4 linked regions of the Homo sapiens genome follow. The protein of the gene in region 1 interacts with the protein of each later gene in a biochemical or structural test. Each region holds a gene or a part of one and is shown in the gene's direction. Other genes may lie near its edges.

What was found. The genes of interacting proteins can lie anywhere in the genome.
Region 2: the proteins of DLG1 (region 1) and RAPGEF6 interact in a test that uses a peptide from one of them, tested with the Homo sapiens proteins (one large-scale study listed by IntAct).
Region 3: the proteins of DLG1 (region 1) and JAM2 interact in a test that uses a peptide from one of them, tested with the Homo sapiens proteins (one large-scale study listed by IntAct).
Region 4: the proteins of DLG1 (region 1) and SLCO1A2 interact in a test that uses a peptide from one of them, tested with the Homo sapiens proteins (one large-scale study listed by IntAct).

The regions. Positions count from the first base shown.
Region 1 is NC_000003.12:197,062,960-197,068,112, reverse strand, and holds part of DLG1 (disks large homolog 1), read left to right. Parts: intron 1-1,358; coding exon 1,359-1,409; intron 1,410-2,303; coding exon 2,304-2,405; intron 2,406-2,648; coding exon of another isoform or gene 2,649-2,662; exon of another isoform or gene 2,663-2,664; coding exon 2,665-2,837; intron 2,838-5,153. UniProt on the Homo sapiens protein: Essential multidomain scaffolding protein required for normal development. Recruits channels, receptors and signaling molecules to discrete plasma membrane domains in polarized cells.
Region 2 is NC_000005.10:131,428,350-131,433,502, reverse strand, and holds part of RAPGEF6 (rap guanine nucleotide exchange factor 6), read left to right. Parts: coding exon 1-73; intron 74-2,153; coding exon 2,154-2,644; intron 2,645-4,286; coding exon 4,287-4,601; intron 4,602-5,153. UniProt on the Homo sapiens protein: Guanine nucleotide exchange factor (GEF) for Rap1A, Rap2A and M-Ras GTPases. Does not interact with cAMP.
Region 3 is NC_000021.9:25,644,985-25,650,137, forward strand, and holds part of JAM2 (junctional adhesion molecule B isoform 1 precursor), read left to right. Parts: exon of another isoform or gene 1-2,148; intron 2,149-5,153. UniProt on the Homo sapiens protein: Junctional adhesion protein that mediates heterotypic cell-cell interactions with its cognate receptor JAM3 to regulate different cellular processes. Plays a role in homing and mobilization of hematopoietic stem and progenitor cells within the bone marrow.
Region 4 is NC_000012.12:21,296,038-21,301,190, reverse strand, and holds part of SLCO1A2 (solute carrier organic anion transporter family member 1A2), read left to right. Parts: coding exon 1-20; intron 21-621; coding exon 622-843; intron 844-3,622; coding exon 3,623-3,787; intron 3,788-5,153. UniProt on the Homo sapiens protein: Na(+)-independent transporter that mediates the cellular uptake of a broad range of organic anions such as the endogenous bile salts cholate and deoxycholate, either in their unconjugated or conjugated forms (taurocholate and glycocholate), at the plasmam membrane.

The DNA.
Region 1 (5,153 bases):
CTAAAACAGAAAAGAATGTTTATGCCAATGTATGGATTTAAAAGACCTACAGCTACATACATATAATATAAACCAATTGCAAAATTCATGGTAAAATTGTTATAGGATCTTGATAATTAAAGAGAAAGTCTTCAAATACATTATCCAATATTGATTGCTTTCATTGAACCACTTGGGTTAACACAGTCTTTTCTAATTTTAGGCGTGGGGGTGAGGGGGGATGTGTGTGTGTTAGTTTAAAACTCCTAGAGTTTTTGGCCGGGCGCGGCGGCTCACGCCTGTAATCCCAGCACTTTGGGAGGCCGAGGCGGGCAGATCACCTGAGGTCAGGAGTTCGAGACCAGCCTGACCAACGTGGAGAAACCCTATCTTTACTAAAAATACAAAATTAGCTGGGCATGATGGCACATGCCTGTAATCCCAGCTACTTGGGAGGCTGAGGCAGGAGAACCGCTTGAACCCGGGAGTTGGAGGCTGCAGTGAGCTGAGATCATGCCATTGCACTCCAGACTAGGCAACAAGAGCGAAACTCCGTCTCAAAAAAAAAAAAAAAAAAAAAAACTCTCAGAGTTTTTAACTATTTATTTCTTTTCACTGGATTCAGATATTCAGATATAATTTGTAGACTCTTTTATTTAGAGTATTTCCTAAGCTCCGAACCTTTAATTTAACCTTTAGAAGCTTTAACTTCTTGTGTTTTTAAGGTCAAAGCAAATATATTTATCTCCTTTACTATCACTGTTGTTTATTTTCTTGGAAGGATTTAGTTTTATCTAAAGCTCTTTTTGACTCACATTAAATTTATTATTTTTTTACAAAGTTGAGTTAGTGAATTTTTCATCAGTGAAATAGTAACAGTAGTTTTACCTTTGCATTTATAATTTTTAATTTTAAGATGTAATTATTTTAAAAATAAAATATACTGTATTCAGTATTGTAGTTGGTGGAACAAAAAAAGTAGCATGTTTTTAATAGTAACAAATTACCTAATACGTAGATAGATGATAGACAGATCTGCTCATTAAAGCATTAATCTTTAACAGATTTAATAATTCTTAGATTCTAAATAAAGGAGTAGCACATAGCATCACAAATGAAGATTTTTAGATTTGATTATCTATAAAATATAATATTGATTATATAGCCCATTTGTATTTTGTTTTACATTTAGCAAACTCACTTTTAAGACTTTATAATTTGACACTTTTTTTTAACTAAATCTTGCCATAAAGTACCTCTTTCCATATCTTTGCCATTTTCTCAGGAAAGTTCTAGTAATGTATATGTTGTTTATGAAGAATTAGATTAGCATCAATTATCTTTACACATTTTTCATCTGTGCCTTCACTTTCTAATAGGTGGTCAAGAAGAATACGTCTTATCTTATGAACCAGTGAATCAACAAGAAGGTTTGTGAAGCCTATTGATGTTTTATAACCTTCTAGAAGAATATACTTTTTAATTTGGGGGAAAAAAATTCTCATACCCCAAAAAATGTTGTATTAAAATTTTTTTTTACTACATATACATGTAGAAATTTACTACATGTGTTTTATGAAACATAGTTTACTCCACAGAATATTAGAATCTAGTCATTTCATACTGACTTTTATATTTGTGTTTTATTTCCCAAGCAACTTTGTTCCAGTGTTCTTGTTAGCATCACTATCTTCCAAATAACCCTTTTTTGAAAATCTTGGAAGTATCTTTGAGCCTTCTCTGTTCCTCCTCCTCCTCCTCATCCAGTTAGGTTCCAGGCACTGTTTATCCCACTTCTTTCTTATTTATGACCTTCTTTTCATCCCTTCTATCACAATGTTAGTTCTCAGTCTCACTACCAATCTCCATTATTCCAGCATGATCCCAGACCACCCAGAGTTTACACTTCTGTTAGATCATCTTTCTAGAATGCTACTACTGGGATTATATCACTTCCTACATCCAGTTTCTGTTCTGCCCTTCTTTGCTCTGCTTCCTTACAATTTCTACTTCAAAGCCATCTGTAAAACACTAGACTTTATTCTGTCATTTGCAATGTAAAGAAACATTATCTGCGAAAACACCAAATTTAACTTGATTGAATTATCAATATGACTTCTAGCAGAAGACTAAGTAAAGTTTAAGATCTGAGTCAAGATTATAAAAGAGCAAGTTACGCATCTTTGGTTGATGGTAGAGTGAGATGGAGAGGGAAGAAAAAAATTAGTCATAACAGTTAAGGATATTTTTGTTCGCTGGTGAAATAAAATACATTGATATTTGTTGAATGTTTATTCCTTTTAACATGCAGTTTATCTTTATAGTTAATTATACTCGACCAGTGATCATATTGGGACCTATGAAAGACAGGATAAATGATGACTTGATCTCAGAATTTCCTGACAAATTTGGATCCTGTGTTCCTCGTAAGTAAACCAAACAAAAACATTTAATTGTTACTCTTAACATTTCCTGTCACTGTGTGTGGGAAAAATAGATATAACCATTTTTTAATGGTTTGTACTTATTTTATCAGTTACTCTTCCATCCTCCATATTATTGTCCTTTCTCAGATTTAAATTAATCTGTTCTGTTGAACTTTACAAAACGATGTAAGTAGAAAATGGATTTATTGTGGTTTTTTTTTTAATATTAAACACTTTCCCAAGTTTTTTTCTGTTAAAGATACAACTAGACCAAAACGAGATTATGAGGTAGATGGAAGAGATTATCATTTTGTGACTTCAAGAGAGCAGATGGAAAAAGATATCCAGGAACATAAATTCATTGAAGCTGGCCAGTATAACAATCATCTATATGGAACAAGTGTTCAGTCTGTACGAGAAGTAGCAGAAAAGGTAAGCATCAGACTAATCCCAGAATATAGCTTCTAATCAGATATGCCTTTGACAGTATGCAAGACTGGTAGGATAGATACAGCACTAATTAGTTTTGTTAATGTGATGAATTTGCTTACCTAAATAATTAATTTTCCATGGCTTAGGAAAGTGCATACAAGATAAAACAGGTAAATAAGGTAAACAAAGAAAGTGAAAATAGAAATGATAACATGAATGTAAGAGAAGTTATTTTCAGGTCATTTGCTAGAGATAGACCTTTTGTTTAGGCCTAGCTCTCCAGCATATATTAAAAGGAGATAAGGGCCGGGTGTGGCAGTGCACCCTTACAGTCCTAGCTACTGAGAAGGCTGAGTTGAGAGAATCACTGAAGCCTGGGAGTTTGAGGCTGCAGTGAGCTATGAGCATGCCACTGAACTCCAGCCTGGGCAACAGAACAAGACCCTGGCTCTTAAAAAAAGAAAAAAAAAGAAAGATCAATAAATCTAACCACTTAAAATTTTTAAAAAACTTTTTTTATGGCCAAAGACTTTTTCCAAAAACTATTGGAAAACACCATTAACAATGTCAAAAGACAACTGACAGAAAAAATTTGCAAGAAAAGGGCTAATATTCCCAATATATAAAGAACTCATAAAAACAGGGAACAGAGACCAGAAACCCAATAGAAAAAAACAGTGGACAAAAGATCAGAATATATAGTTCACACAAAAATAAGATATAAAATGGCCTTTGTACATAGGAAATGACGTTCAACTGTAGTCATTATTAAAGAAATGTAAAGGCCGGGTGCGGTGGCTCACGCCTGTAATCCCAGCGCTTTGGGAGGCCAAGGCAGGCGGATCACCTGAGGTTAGGAGTTCAAGACCAGCCTGGCCAACATGGTGAAACCCCGTCTCTACTAAACATACAAAAATTAGCCAGGCTTGGCAGTGCATGCCTTAATCCCAGCTTCTCAGGAGGCTGAGGCAGGAGAATTGCTTGTACCTGGGAGGTGGAGGTTGCAGTGAGCCGAGGTCGTGCCGTTGCACTCCAACCTGGGTGACAAGAGTGAAACTCTGCCTCAAAAAAAAAAAAAAATAAGGCCAGGCACAGTGGAAGGCTGAGGTGGGTAGATCACCTGAGGTCAGGAGTTCAAGACCAGCCTGGCCAACATGGCAAAACCCCATCTCTACCAAAAATACAAAAATTAACTTGGCGTGGTGGTGCATGCCTGTAATCCTGGCTAAGGAGGCTGAGGCAGGAGAATCGCTTGAACCCAGGAGATTGCAGTGAGCCAAAACCATGCCACTGCACTCCAGCCTGAGCAACAGAGCAAGACTCCATCTCAAAAAAAAAAAAAAAAAATGTAAATTAAGAAGACTACTCTAAATTCAATTTCTCCCCTATCAGATTCAGGGAGAAATATGAAGACATTTTCTTGGTGAGACTGAGAGAAAACAGTTGTGCATTGCTGGTGGAAATGCAAACTGGTACTGCCTTTTGGAAGGGTATTTGGCAATATCTAGCAGCTTTCCTTCAACCCAGCATCCCACTTCTAGGAATTTATTCCAAAGATATACCCCAACAGTATGAAAATACATGGGCAAAAGGGTATTTATTCATTGTAGCATTGTTTATAATTGTGAAATACTGAAAATCATCTAAATGCCCAGATAAAAGTGATTGAATTAATTTTACATTCACAAAATGAAGTTCTCTAAAACTGTTAATAAGGTATTTGAACTGATACACAACATGCAAAAGAATATCTACGGTATAAAATAAGAGAAAATGGGAAAATACAAATCTCTGCTCAGTTGTGTGAAAATAAGCACAGGAAAGGTAAATCAGAACTTAATGAGGTTGGTTACCTACAGAGGGAGTGATGTAGAGAGGGAATTTGGAATGGGATGGAAAGGATGAGGGGTATGACATTTCTCTGAGTATACATTTTTGTATTATTTTAACTTTTAGAAAGTATGTTAGTATTTTACATATTTAAAAAAATCAAAAATAAAAGCAACAAAGAAAGATGGGGGAAAAGCAAAATGATACATAAGTAGAAACTAAATAAACCTGACTGTATTTCTTTTTTTTTTTTTATACTTTAAGTTTTAGGGTACAATAAACCTGCCTGTATTTCAAATGAATAACTTAACTACATTGAAGAGGGGAGAAGTCTTAATCCCAGAGATTCTTTAACACAAGCTGAAGACAGATCTGTAAACAAAATAAAACTCTAATTAGTAGGTTTGTTGGGTGGAGTGTATGGGCTTACAGTTCTGAAACTAATATATATTCTAGGGTTGAGCAAATAAACTAATACAATGGCAG
Region 2 (5,153 bases), on another chromosome or scaffold:
CTGAATCCACTGGGGCATTGGAAAAGACAGAGCACGCTTCAGGGATAGGAGATCATAGTCAACATGGCCCTGGGTAAGCATCATTGTCTGTGTTCATAACACAAAACCCAAGCCAAGTGGCCACTGCAAGGAGTGCTCCCCACCTTGACCTTGGACCTCCCATGGGGTAATTGCAGAGTTATCCATAAAAGAATATGTGGGCCAAGCACATATTCTCTATTCTGAATATGTAAATAAGCACTATGTTGAAAGATGTATGGGTGTTCATTTTTAAAGTGTTACTAAATTCAAGTAACTTTTTATCATTATGTATCTTTCCAGTCAGAACTCAAAGTGCATCTGCTACTTATATAGGGGAGATAATTTTTGAAATTCTGGCTATAGGTTAATCAAAAAGGTTGTGTTTTGGAAAGTGCCTCGAGTGCTGTGCACATTGTAGACAGGTTGGGAGAGTAGGACTAGCCCTTGATCTCTGTCCTCTGAAAGTGTAATTTGGGGAGTAAGAATAATCACCTAGCAAAGGTTAATTAAAAAAAAAAATCAACTCTAAATTTCTATTTAGAATCAAGCAACGTGGAAATCTTTGAGAAAGTTTATTCTAACTGATAAATATTGTGAAATCTGGTCTACTTTAATATGAAAAATTTAAGATAAATTATTACCACATTTATAAAGATTTCTAAACTAGGATCTCTACACCAGAGGTCAGCAAATGTTTTCTATAAAAGTTACATAGTAAACATTTTAGACTTCACAGGCCATAAGGCCTCTGTCACAACTACTCTGCTATTACACCAGAATAGCCATAGACAACACATAAACAAATGGCATGACTGTGTCCCAGTAAAACTTTTTTTTTTTTTTAAGGCGGAGTCTCGCTCTGTGAGACAGAGTGTCACTCTTGTTGCCCAGGCTGGAGTGCACTGGCGCGATCTCGGCTCACTGCAAGCTCCGCCTCCTGGGTTCACGCTGTTCTCCTGCCTCAGCCTCCCGAGTAGCTGGGACTACAGGCGCCCACCACCACGCCCGGCTAATTTTTTGTATTTTTAGTAGAGACAGGGTTTCACCATGTTAGCCAGGATGGTCTCGATCTCCTGACCTCGTGATCCGCCCGCCTCGGCCTCCCAAAGTGCTGGGATTACAGGCGTGAGCCACCACGCCCAGCCAAAACTTTATTTACAAAAACGAGCAAAGAGACCACCAGATTTGGCCCTGGGCTGTAGTTTGCTACCCCCTGCACTATACTGTAAATGAGGGGTTTACAAACTTTTTTTTGTGAAGGGCTGGGTAGTAAATATTTTCGCCTCTGCAATCTACATATAGTCTCTGTCACAAATTCTTCTGGTTTGGTTTTGTTTTCTTTTCTTTTTTAACCTTTTAAAAGGTTAAAAAACAGAACTATTCTTTGCTCCAGACCATACAAAAATAGGCTGTTGGCTAAATTTGGCCCATGAGCTTTAGTTTGGGGACCCCTGCTATAAATTATTCATTTCATGGGTAATTGGGGAAGTTGCTGTTTACTTGGCACTGTACTGGGCTAACCTCAGAGGTACGTTGAAAAATAAAACATGATTCTTCAAGTTGGGAACTCTTAATTCTGTATGCATGGACGCAGTAGTCTAATATTGTGATGACCAAAAATGAATATGTATACTTAACCTTATTCATTTCAACTCTCATCTTTACATTTTCATTTAAAATCAGTTCAAGAAAAATACTTGCCAGGCATACCTCTGGTCCATCCCAGCTGCTGGGGAGGCTGAGGCGGGAGGATCACTTGAGCCCAGGAGTTAAAAGCTGCAGTGCATCATGATCGTGCCTGTAAATAACCACTGCACTCTGGTCTGGGCAACAGAGTGACACCCTGTCTCGAAAAAAAAAAAAATATCTAACATTTTAAAATTTAAAAAGAAAAATTCTAAGGAAATTTTGCTAAGCATTAGAGTTTCTTTACTGTGTCTTCTGAGTGTTAACTAAATACTTACAAGGAATATAGTGATGAATGATGATAATATTGTTTTCCTCACGATGTTATTTGGCATGAACACTTGTGGTACGTGCTCTGTAGTTTCTCACAGGCAATAATAACTTGAAACAGAGAGAAGATAGTTTTTCTGGCAAGCCTTCTAATTGTACGTTATCTCCAATTTTAGGTGGACACTCTTGAAGCCATCTCTAATCAAGTGTTTAGCTGTCTCATCGTCTGTGAGCAATGAAGAGATTTCTCAAGAGCATATCATTATAGAAGCAGCTGACAGTGGTCGTGGAAGTTGGACTTCGTGTTCAAGCAGCTCCCATGACAACTTCCAAAGCCTTCCAAACCCAAAAAGCTGGGATTTTTTGAACTCTTACAGACATACCCATTTGGATGACCCCATTGCTGAAGTTGAACCCACTGACTCTGAGCCCTATTCCTGTTCTAAAAGCTGCTCTAGAACTTGTGGGCAGTGTAAAGGAAGCCTAGAGAGAAAGAGTTGGACCTCCTCCAGTTCTCTGTCTGACACGTATGAACCAAACTATGGGACAGTTAAACAGAGAGTATTGGAGAGCACCCCAGCTGAGTCATCTGAAGGCTTGGACCCCAAGGATGCCACTGACCCAGTTTATAAAACTGTCACTTCAAGTACAGAAAAGGGCTTGATTGGTAAGTTGTGTTTTTGTTGTCTGTGGCATTTAGAGATTAAGTAGTCAAAAAATGGCATTGGGATATCTTGGCCCTGGATTTTATCGTCGCAAAAATTCATTCTCTAACAACCTTTCTTTCCTTCACAAACAAACAAGTTATTTCCCAAAAATTCATGGTTTCTCAAAGACTTTGGAGCAGCTATTCAACCCCATTAAAATGAAAAGTCTGATGTGAAGGTATTTAATTAGAGGGACAAGTTTGTTTGTCTTTTGTTTTTAAGTTCTTTTTGGTTTTATTGAGGAATATCATCGCATTAGTGTGCAATAGTAGTAAAGGGATTATTCTCTTTATCACCTCATAAATTGTTTGGACCACAATTGGTATGCATACGTGGTAGAAACATTGAATCTGCTATTGATTTTAGGTCGTAACAGTGAGAGAAAATGCAATCAGGAAGTCCAGAACATTTTTCAGTATACTCTCTTGGTGTACATCATGAGTGTGCCAACTCCTGTTTGTGAATTCCATTCCAAGCTTTCTTAGTAAACTTTTTTTTTTAGTATTTGGCCATCAAATACTTTTTAAAAATTTCTTTCCTAAACTATATAAATACGTGGATATAAAACTGCTTTTCTACTTATATGGAATGACTCTACTTTGAATTAATATCATAATCAACTGTTAAATTTATGCAACAGTCATGGTGTCGCATTTAACTACTAAAAATGTGAAGGTGAAATGTGCTGATTTTATAGTTACTTGTCAAATTGCATTATAGGTTGGGTTTTTAGCTCATTCATTTTTTTCCAACTTTTTTTTTTTTTTTTGAGATGGACTCTTGCTGTATTGCCCAGGCTGGAGTGCAGTGGCATGACCTCGGCTCACTGCAACCTTCGCCTGCCAGGTTCAAGCAATTCTCCTCTCTCAGCCTCCCAAGTAGCTGGGATTACAGGTGCCTGCCACCATGCCCAGCTAATTTTTTTATTTTTAGTAGAGATGGGGCTTCATGTTGGCCAGGCTGGTCTCAAACTTCTCACCTCAGGTGATCCACCCACTTCGGCCTCCAAAGTGCTGGGATTACAGGCGTGAACCACCGCACCTGGCCAGAAGTAAAGTTCTTGAAGGAATTAGTTCCTCCGTACCAGCAAAGTTAAAGTTTATATGCTAGGACTGAGAACTAATCTGCCCAGGAGTGCCAGAAAACATTGGTTCATGTCTCAGAGAGAAGGTGAAACAGCCCTTAAACAGATGGCCCAAATGTCATTTCTATGTAAAGTCTCCCAGTTTACAGAGAATCGGTGTGTAGGGTGAACTTTTAAATGTTTCTGATATCTTTAGGGCTGGTGTGACTTCAGGAGTTGTCATGTACTTCTGTGATATGGGGGCTGAATTGCAGAAGGAAGCTTGTCATCAGTGTCATCTCCTTCAACTCTCTCGTTCTATTTAATGTTTACAGGACTTAATATAGTTGTTTATGTATTTTAAAAAGAGGTTTGTTTATTAAACTTTTAAAAAATGTTTTTGATCTGCCATCATTCAAGTTTATTCATTTTGTCTATTTTTAAGTTGTATTTTGTCATTGTAATAAGTTTGTGGGGTGGTTTCTTTTTTTTTCCATTTCTTTTTCATTAACATTTTCATTGCTTATTTTTCATGCCAGTGTACTGTGTCACCTCACCCAAGAAGGACGATAGGTATAGGGAGCCACCTCCCACTCCTCCAGGATATTTGGGGATTTCTTTAGCGGACCTAAAGGAAGGACCCCACACACACCTAAAACCTCCAGATTATAGTGTGGCAGTGCAGAGGTCAAAGATGATGCATAACAGCCTCTCTAGACTGCCACCAGCTTCTCTCAGTAGCAACCTCGTGGCCTGTGTTCCATCGAAGATTGTAACTCAGCCTCAGAGGCATAATTTGCAGCCATTCCATCCTAAACTAGGAGATGTGACTGATGCAGATAGCGAAGCAGATGGTATGTTGACAAGCTCTCTTAAAGGCTCTTAAATGAATTGCTGAACACATTAAATGGTCTTTACTTTGGTATTTTATGGTAATTAGTAATTGTTTCTTTAAATGCCTTGAATCTCTGTTAAAAAGTAAGAAGTTCCTGCCGGCAGGGTGCAGTGGCTCACACCTGTAATCCCAGCACTTTGGGAGGCTGAGGCGGGCGAATCACCTGAGGTCGGGAGTTCCTGACCAGCCTGTCCAACATGGAGAAACCCCGTCTCTACTAAAAAAATACAAAATCAGCCAGGCATTATGGCGCATGCCTGTAATCCCAGCTACTCGGGAGGCTGAGGCAGGAGAATTGCTTGAACCTGGGAGGCAGAGATTGCAGTGAGCCAAGATCGCACCATTGCACTCCAGCCTGGACAACAAGAACAAAACTCTGTCTCCAAAAAAAAAAAAAAAGTTCCTAAATATAGTATGGGGGAGTGTTTTGGTTTTGTTTTATTTTTCAAGATAGGGTCTAACTCTGTTGCCCAAGCTTAGAGTGCAGTGGCACAATAATGACTCACTACAG
Region 3 (5,153 bases), on another chromosome or scaffold:
ATTCTCCTGCCTCAGCCTCCTGAGTAGCTGGGATTATAGGCTCCCACCACCACGCCCACCTAACTTTTGTATTTTTAGTAGAGACTGGGTTTCGTCATGTTGGCCAGGCTGGTCTTGATCTCCTGACCTCAGATGATCTGCCTGCCTTGGCTTCCCAAAGTGCTGGGATTACAGGCGTGAGCCACCGCGCCTGGCCTAAAGCTATATTTTTTATTAGTTGTATTTCAAATTGCATAGTATGGTGGTAAAGAACATGCACTCCAATGCAGCACTCTGTGCTCTTACCAGCTGTGTGATCTTATACAGGTTAACACCTGTATTATGTCAGTTTACTCATCAGTGTTGGTGATAATCCCAATAAGAGTGCTTACCTCATAGAGGTTTAGGGAGAATTACATGTATAACACACTTAGTAAACTGAAGAAGCCATTGAAGCCTTTTGACATTGAATATCAGTTTGATTTGCATTTTAAAGAGAATGCATTGGATGGAGTATGGTGAATGGAAGGATTGGGGTGGGGGGAGTCAAACTGGGGAGACCAGTTAGAAGTTATTGGAGTAGTCCAGGCAATTGCTTGTGTAAGTACTTATTTTATATAGTTTATTGATAAATATACTCACATAATTACACATACACATATAACCACTGACAATTGCTTTTTACAGTTGTCACCTAATGATGCGATGTGTTCTGAGAAATGTGTCGTTAGGTGATTTTGTTATTGTGTGATCATAGAGTGTACTTACAGAAACCTAGATGGTAGAGCCTGCTGCACACCAAGGCTATATGGTGTAGCCTATTGCTCCTAGGCTACAAACCTATACAGCATGTTACTGTACTGGATACTGTAGGCAACGGTAAACAGTTGTAAGTATTTGTGTACCTAAACATATCTAAACATGGAAAAGGTACAGTAAAAACAGCACAAAAGATAAATGGTACACCTGTGTAGAAACATATCATGAGTGGAGCTTGCAGGACTAGAAGTTGCTCTGAGTGAGTCAGTGAGTGAGTGGTGAGTGAATGTGAAGGCCTGGGACATTACTGTATACTACTGTAGACTTTATCAACACTGTACACTTAGGCTACACTAAATTTATAAAACAATAAAGTTCTTGTGTTACAGCAGTACGGGCGTTATAGCATCACTAGATGATAAGAATTTTTCAGCTCCATTATAATCTGTGGGACCACTGATATGGTTCATTGTTGACCAAAATGTCATTATGCAGTGCATGACTGCATTTGAAATGTAGTTAATTAAATCTGATCAGGAATTTAAGAAAAATGGCTCTTTGGTTTTTAAGGAAAAAATTTTTTAATCATGTGTGCTGTGTTTTCAACTTTCTGTTCAGTTCCCAACCTATAAACATGAAACAGTAGCTCTTTTGGTTACTATGTATACCTTCTTTCAATGTTATTCTCTCTCCCACACGTAAGTTTATTTTCAGTATTTGTTTCCAGTGTTTCCAGAGTTTCCCTGAGTTGTCACCCTTAGAATGGTCATTTTACTTGATTTGATATTCAGAAGAGTGGCCTTCTAAGTTCCAAAGTGTGTGAGTGTATGCATGCATCGGGTGTGGGGGGAAAGAGAGAGAGAGAGAAGGAGAGAGAGAGAGAGAGGGAGGATGGATGGATGTGTGCTCAGATAAATGCCTGCTGACAGCAACACAAAACCCTACTCTATGAATCTTCAGGCCAGTGAATGGGTAGGAAATGCTCTCCAGTTTGAATTGTTCCTACATTTTATGAGCAGAGAAGCAAATCCTGTGAAAGTATTTCAAGAGCTGCCCTCTTAGCTGTCCATTGTCTTGGCTCAGAAAGTCCTAAGGAAGAATCCTTGTAAACTTAACAGACAGGAATTTTGGTTTTTACTGGAGAGCTCTGCTTTTCTTTATCGCATGTCATCAGCATCAAATTTTTATTTGTTTTGTTGGGTTTTCTGTTTTGTTGTAGTTGTCAAAATTTTCTACTGGGATAATTTAGGACGGGCTTGTCTTTATATTTGTAAGGAGTAAAAATGCATAACCTGGTCTGTCTTCTTTATGCTAGGTTTGTCCAATTTGCTTGCTTTCATTTTGTCAATGCAGTCACCTGCTGTTTTTACTCTTCGCTTTCTTCACATTGTGAAACTTCCTAAATACATACTATGGACAAAACCAAAGATAAAAATGAATGAATTGTTAAACACATTTTCTTATATGTCTAACTAAAAATAATATATGCTTAGGGTAAATTCAAACAGAGCAGTAAGTTTACAAAACAAGAAATAAGTCTCCTTTCCAGCCTTCCTGACTCCTTTGCTTCTCAGATAGACCATCCTTAAGTTTCCTGCAAATGGTTTCAGGAAATTAGAAAAGAAATAGTTCCAGTATATATAAGCATACTCTTATAATTTCTTTAGAAATAAAGATCACAATTTATTATGCTTACTGCTGTATACCTTCCAGAAAATCAAATCATATTATATATAGTGTTGTGCACCTTGCTCCAAAAAGTTATTTATGTTAGTAATTAAGGTACAACCTAAAGCTCAGTCTACAAGCAGGACAGAAGATAACATCTTATAGAGGCCTTTAAAATTGTTGCACCAAAATGCAGTGGGAGCTATTTTCTAACTAGAACCACCAAAAATAATGGAACAAAATGATTAGTAAAACAAAGGGAAATAAACTTCCAAACCAGTAACCAAATATGGAAAGGGAAAAATTCCAAGCAAGATCCAGTTAAAAAGTCCAAAGGAGAACGTGTGTGCACCCAGAGAGGACAGAGACACTAGCACCAGCTAAGATTCACAGACAAGTGCAAAGGGGTGCTATTTTTAAAGGAGACCAAAGAGGAAATAATGACCACAAATAAAAAGGGAACATGTCAAACTTCTGGGCAAGTGCTAAATTTGAAAAGAGAGAATGGTGTTTATGTTTTTTAAAAAATGCACTAGAGGGCTGGGCGCTGTGACTCACGCCTGTAATCCCAGCACTTTGGGAGGCCAAGACGGGTGGATCACCTGAGGTCAGGAGTTTGAAACCAGCCTAGCCAACGTGGTGAAACCCTGTATCTACTAAAAGTACAAAAAGTAGCTGGGCATGGTGGCATGCACCTGTAGTCCCAGCTACTCAGGAGGCTGAGGCATGAGAATCACTTGAACGTGGGAGGCGGAGGTTGCAATGAGCTGAGATTGTGCCACTGCACTCCAGCCTGGGCAACACAGCAAGATTCTGTCTCAAAAAAAAAAATTCACTAGATGCATTTTCAAATAGGAATGGATTTTGATCAGAAGCAGAACTGACACAATGGAATAAACAATAACTCAAGTATGCATTTGTCCAATAACTGAAACATGCAGCCATCTATGTCATAAAACATTAAAATTGTACCTAAGCATATTGGAGACATGAGATTATTGTACTGTCCATATAGTGCTTTTGGATCCAGAACAAGTCAGGTTCTTTTGTGCCGTGTGTTTGTGTGTGTGTGTGTGTGTGTGTGTGTAAACGAGTGAACATCTATGCCATTTTATCTAGATACAGTACTTCTTCCCAACCTCCATTCATCTCTGTTGTTGTTGCTATTGTTCCTCATATGGCCAAATGCAATTTCTCCCTGAAGGTCTAACTCCAAAATTCCTTGCGCCTTCTCTTAATTCTTTCCAACTCATCAATTCCTCAAAGCTGATGTCTACTGTATATTATACTCTGGTGCTTTTGGTATATTCTTTATTCTCTTATGGCACTTACTGAGCTGTACTGTTACAATTTTTCCATGTATATCTCTCTGTATTGTGAGCTTGCTGGAGGCAGAGACAACACATCTTTAGGTCGTTGGTACCTAGAGTACTGCCTGGCACATTTAATACTTGATTAAGTAGAATTACATAAGCTGGAATTTAATGTTTATTTGTTTTGTAGCTTCATAAAATTATATAACTTTTTAGCAATAAAAACCTCAAGACATATGTAAAATTAATAGTCTCAAATGAATGCATAATATTACTGCTCCTAAAACTCCCTCCTCCTCTTTTTAACAGTGGCCTCCCTAAGATATAAGGAAATATAAAGACTGGTCTGCCTTATAGGATTTTAAGAAATTTTCCAGATTTCCTGATGCCTCCTTATATCCTAAAAGCACATAAGTTCCTCTTGAATTAGTAAGCATTGATTAAAAACTCAGATGAGTCAAACAATACACCCCTCAAAAGTTGCTTAATCTAGACTAGAACAAAGCACGTATTAGTGTGTTCTCACGCTGCTGTAAAGGACTGCCCAAGACTGGGTAATTTACAAAGGAAAGAGGTTTAATTGACTCTCAGTTTCGCATGGCTGGGGAGGCCTCAGGAAACTTACAATCATGGCAGAAGGGGAAGCAAACACATTCTTCTTTACTTGATGGCCGGAAGCAGAAGTGCCGAGCAAAAGCGGGGAAAGCCCTTTATAAAATCATCAGATCTCATAAGAGCTCATTCACTATCATGAGAAAAGAAAGCATGGAGGTAACCACTTCCATGATTCAATTACCTGCCACCGTGTCTCTCCCACAACATGTGGGGATTATGGGAACTACAATTCAAGATGAGATTTGGGTGGCGACACAACCAAACCGTATTAGCATGTTAGTTGTAAAAGTTCTACTCTCTGGAGCAGGGAATCTCCAGACTTTCCCCTCATGGCCTAATCTCTTTGTTACTCAATTGATATAATAGCAATCTATATCCCATAATGAGCAAAAGTTTATTAAGAGAGATGAGACAATAGAGACTGTTTTAGTCTATTTCTGTTGCTGTAACAGAACACCTGAGACTGGGTAATTTATAAACAAAAGAGGTTTACTTGGCTCCCAGTTCTGGAGCCTGGGAAGTTCAACATTGGGCAGCTACCTCTGGCAAGGCCCTCATGCTACATTAAAGCATAGTGAATGGCATCACATGTGGAAACACCTGCAGGAGCAGCAAGCAAGTATGTGCAAAAGAGACAAAACACAAGTGATGGCCTCATTTTTTAACAACCTGCTCTTGCAGTTACTAATCTAGTCCCATGAGAACAAGAACTCATTTGCTTCTGTGAGAATTAACCCAGTCCTATGAGAATGGGACTAATATCTTCGTGAGGGTGGCAGAGTCTTCATGACCCAAACACCTCTTAAAGGTCCTACCACC
Region 4 (5,153 bases), on another chromosome or scaffold:
CACTGGATTTGTGAACACAGGTAATTCAATAAAATCTATTTGTACAGTGTCTAGACTATACAAAGCATCTCAGGTATGTTATCATATATAATCATGGCCTTACTTGACCTTCAATTTGATAAATGATCTCTACTTTAAAAGTGAGAAACTCTAGTGGAGGAATTTAAATAACTTTTAAAATATTCCAAACCAGAAAGCAGTAGTGCAAAATAAAATGCTAATCTGACACAGAATCACATGCTATTTCTAGTGCACTTCAACTATATTTCTTGGTTTTACAAAATTTAAGCATGTAGGTTTGAATTTATTTCAATTAAGCAATCATTTGTTGATGATGAAATAGAACTTTAAGCAATCATTTGTTGATGATGAAATAGAACTTGTAGCTGTTTAGTTAATACCTGCTTTTAAATCCCTTACATGATAGACAGATAACCAGCCTAATTTATTACTAGACAATATTACAACACCACATATTATTAGAAAAATTTTATCAGTGTCTGAATTATAAGCCAATTTTATAGTTGGTTGGGACCCGATAATTCTAATTTTAATAATTTTCTATAGTTCATACAGAAAATACTGACTTAAGCTAATAACAGTGTGTGTATTTTTTTACAGATGATCTGATCATAACTCCCACTGACACTCGTTGGGTCGGTGCATGGTGGTTTGGCTTTCTGATTTGTGCAGGAGTTAACGTGCTCACTGCCATTCCTTTTTTCTTTTTGCCCAACACACTTCCAAAGGAAGGACTAGAGACTAATGCTGACATCATTAAAAATGAAAATGAAGACAAACAAAAAGAAGAGGTCAAGAAGGAAAAATATGGAATCACTAAAGGCAAATATACATATTCTAAATACTATGAAATTGACCTTTTATTTCATATAGATATGTCTGTATTTTAGTCTAACACTATGATATGCTATGCTGTGTTGAGACAATTTGTCATCAACAGTCACCAGTCAAGAATACCTAACTAGTCCGATTCTTCCTATGGTACTACTTGAAAATAAATATTATAATTTGGAAGCTGAAATATTTCAGATCAGCATTTGTGTAAACTTTTATGTCAGTCTTGGCACTCTCCTCTCTCTCTCTCTTTCATATATATATACACACACATATATATGTACACACACATATATATATACACACATATATACACATATATATGTACACACACATATATCTACACACATATATACACATATATATGTACACACACACATATATATATGAGAGAGAGGAGAGAGAGGGTCATGTATATATATACACACACGTATATATATATATACACGTATATATATATACACACACGTATATATATATACACGTATATATATACACATATATGTGTGTGTATATGTGTGTGTGTATATATATACGTGTGTGTGTATATATATATATATATATACACACGTATATATATGGTCCCATTTGCTCAAAAAACCGATTTTACAGAGAACATAGGTTGAATTGAAACAAAATGAACAAGCAAATTTAAACTAAGAACAAAAGTAGGAAAAAGTATACTCTAATCTTAATAGGTAGTATAGTTTTGTAACCAGTGTGTTAGTTTAACGAAGAGCTTCCTGGAAGTTAAATCAGAAAGAAAAAAAAAAACATGATCGGTGACCCACCTCTCTATACTTGGTAGAGGGAAGAATAATAATTTTTAAACAGAAGCAGTTCTCCAAGGAAGAAATTGTAAAAAAATTTAAAAATGATCATAAGATACATGATACAGGTAATATTGAGCCACATAGTGGTTTTCCAGCAAATGAAAGGGTAAATTGCATGTAACATTTTTTTTGGTACAGAACCTCAATAAAAGCTCAAAGTATAATTTACAGAAGGTTTTTCTGTGGGAAACTAAACTAAGATAGCCTAAGTATTTAGTACTCAAGAGCACTGATGCTCAAACTTGGCTGCACATTGGAATCACCTAGGAAATTTTAAAAATGATTGATGCCTGAAAGTTCTGTAGTATTCCCAAAAGGTCAGATTTAATTAGTGTGGATGTGCAGCCTGGCTATTGGAACTTAAAAATGTTTATTTGACGGATGGTGAGGGTCTCAGTTTTCTGTCAAATGGGGATAATAATAGTACTTACTATAGAATTGTTGTGTGAAGGTAAAAGACATTCTAGCACACATTATTATTAATACTGATACTAGTGTTAGTACTTTTATGTTGTCATTGTTGTTTCTATCATCACCCATAAGTTACAATGTCAATTTGCATAGAATTTTTCTTAACAATTGTAAATTCTCTTAAATCATAATTGAGCATAATTTAATACATCTTTGGTCATTAGGAGCCAACTCAGAATCTTGCAAATTCTCAGAATCATTCTGATGATATTAAAAACTCTTCTTAAAGGATTGTTATGGACTGATAGACCTCTTGCAGTCTGCAAGATCAGTTCCATTTTCAAAATTAGGAAAGAGCTTAGCTTGTTGCAAGACATAGAAAAGAAACTTGTGCTACTGAAACTCATCTATTAGGACAGGGATGTCAACAAACATGGGTGACTTAAAAATCTTCAGATAACTCTCTCTCCTGTCAGGTACCCTATTCATAAATATAAATTTTACAATTATAACTCATTTACTTGCATTAATCTGTGTGTCCTCCTCTTCTAAATTGTTTATTTATTGAAATTTTGTTCCAGAATGAATTGTGAGCAGTTTATTAAGCAAACCAAGATTGTGCATAAGAAAGTCAAGACAGAGAACATGTGGACAGGAAAAGTGAAAGGAAATTAAAAGTGAGAACTTGAGCCTGAATGGTAGCAGTGTGACCAAGAACATTTACTAGAAGCAGGCCACACATTACTAGAGGCAGGCCACACATTACTAGAAGCAGGCCAAACATTACTAGAGGCAGGCCACACATTTGGCTCTGTGCTTTTTCTAACAGGAATCATTTTTGATTAAATCATTTACATAGTCCTTAGAATGTACCAAATGAATCAGCATCTCTGAGGATGGGACCTGGATGTTGGTATTTTAAAAAATATCTCCAGGTAGATCTTGCTGAGAACCAATGGCAGAACCACTGAAACTGTTGTTCTGAAGAAGCAAAAAAAAATTCCGGATACTTGAGAACATTCATATCTCATTAATTCCCACACATCTTTATTTCAAATGTTCAGGGAGTGATAAAATAAATATTTGTGTGAAATCTTCTTTATCAACTCGATTTTCCTCCAGACTTTACAGAACAGAACAAGCATCTTTCATTCTAATGAGCTGTAGAAAAAAGAATATATTAATAGAAGAACAAAAGGTTAGTAATAAAATGCTGTGGACGTAGACAATATTTTGGTCACTTTGTAGTTTTGCTTACTGATCTTTAAGACTCAACAGTGACTTATTGAGGGCAAAACTGTTGTGTTCTGATCCCTACCCAGTCAGCTACATCACTGACTTCCAGAAGCCACCAAAACATTGCTATGACTTCAGCTTTCAAGGGGAAAAAAGAATTAGCAAACAATACATATTACAAAATAGTAAAAAACATAATTTGTTGAGGAGGTGGATGTTTCAGGAAAAGCCAGTCACAAAATGCAAAGCCAAGTTCGTTTGACACAGTTGTCATTCTTTCATTTCAGATTTTCTACCTTTCATGAAAAGTCTTTCCTGCAATCCAATTTATATGCTTTTCATACTTGTAAGTGTGATACAGTTCAATGCATTCGTTAACATGATCTCCTTCATGCCTAAATACCTAGAACAGCAATATGGAATATCATCTTCAGATGCAATCTTTCTAATGGGTATGTTTGTTTTTCTCTGCCTTACTAGCACACTTTCCCCCCCACGAACAGTGTGATGGCGGGTGTAGCAAACTCCTAAGTTGAAGTGTTTTAGGATATTTTTTGACTCTGGTGGATTTCTTCCTTCTAATCTCAAGAAAGAAAGAAAGAAAGAGAAAGAAAGAAAGAAAGAAGGAAGGAAAGAAGGAAGGAAAGAAGGAAAGAAAGAAAGGGTAGGGAAGGGAAGAGGTCAGAAATACCTTGATTTTCTTCTCTCTGAAGTCAGAATGTGAATTCATAATATGAATGCAAATATTTGGGAGTGCAAAAATTACATATTTTCAGATAGGATTGTGCATTTTACTACCAAATTTTACTCTTTTTGGTTCCAGTTCAAGGATTCTATGTTCCTCCTAATTTAATTTTTTGGTCCCCCTAGTGGTTTTAGGTGTCTCTGCAGCCACACACATTCGGCTTTTCCTGCAACCACACTAACCTCAGTGGTTTTAGCCTAACTTGGGTTTTTCCTGGGATCTTTCCACTGTTTTTAAAAGTCAATATCCCAGGCTACTTGTATCCACACTACCTAAAGTGCTTGTGAAAGCTTCAAATACCTGGGGTTCCCCCTCAGACACACTGAATCAGACTCTAGGGCGTGGGGCTCTGGAATGGATTTTTAACAAGCTCTCTCAATAATATGATTCGGGGAGCCAGATGCTCACATTGTATAGATGGAACCTAGGGCTATCTTCTCCTTTTTCTATTCTTTTTTTTCACTTATTGGGAAGGGTTCAGAGAGGAAGAGCCAGTAGCAGCAAGACATGAAATGTAAATACACTTGACAGCAACAGGCTCAGCAAAGTGACTCTCTAAAGTACCTTGAACTGGGTGTGGTGGCTCATGCCTTTAATTCCAGCACTTTGGGATGCTGAGGAGTGAGGATCACTTGAGGCCAGGAGTTCAAGACCAGCCTGGACAACATAGCAAGACTTTGTCTCTGCAATTTTTGTTTTTAAATTAGCCAGGTGTGGTGTTGTGCACCTGTAGTCCCAGCTACTTAGAGGGCTGAGGTGGGAGCATCTCTTAAGCCCAGGAAGCTGAGGCTCCAGTCAGCTATGATCATATCACTGCACTCCAGCCTGGGCAATAAAGCAAGATTCTGTCTCTAAAAAAAGAAAAGAAAAAGCACTTTGAGAGGAGTCTAATTCTTCACAACCAAAGTGAGGATAGGTAACTGAAAAATTGTATATATATATTCTCACTACACAGAATAGAGGGTAATAAATGAATAAATTACTGGCCAATTTTGACTTGCCACTTCTACCTGGATCCTAAGAAAAGAGATTTTTATCATGATCTCTGCCTATAAGAAATTCACAAGCTACTG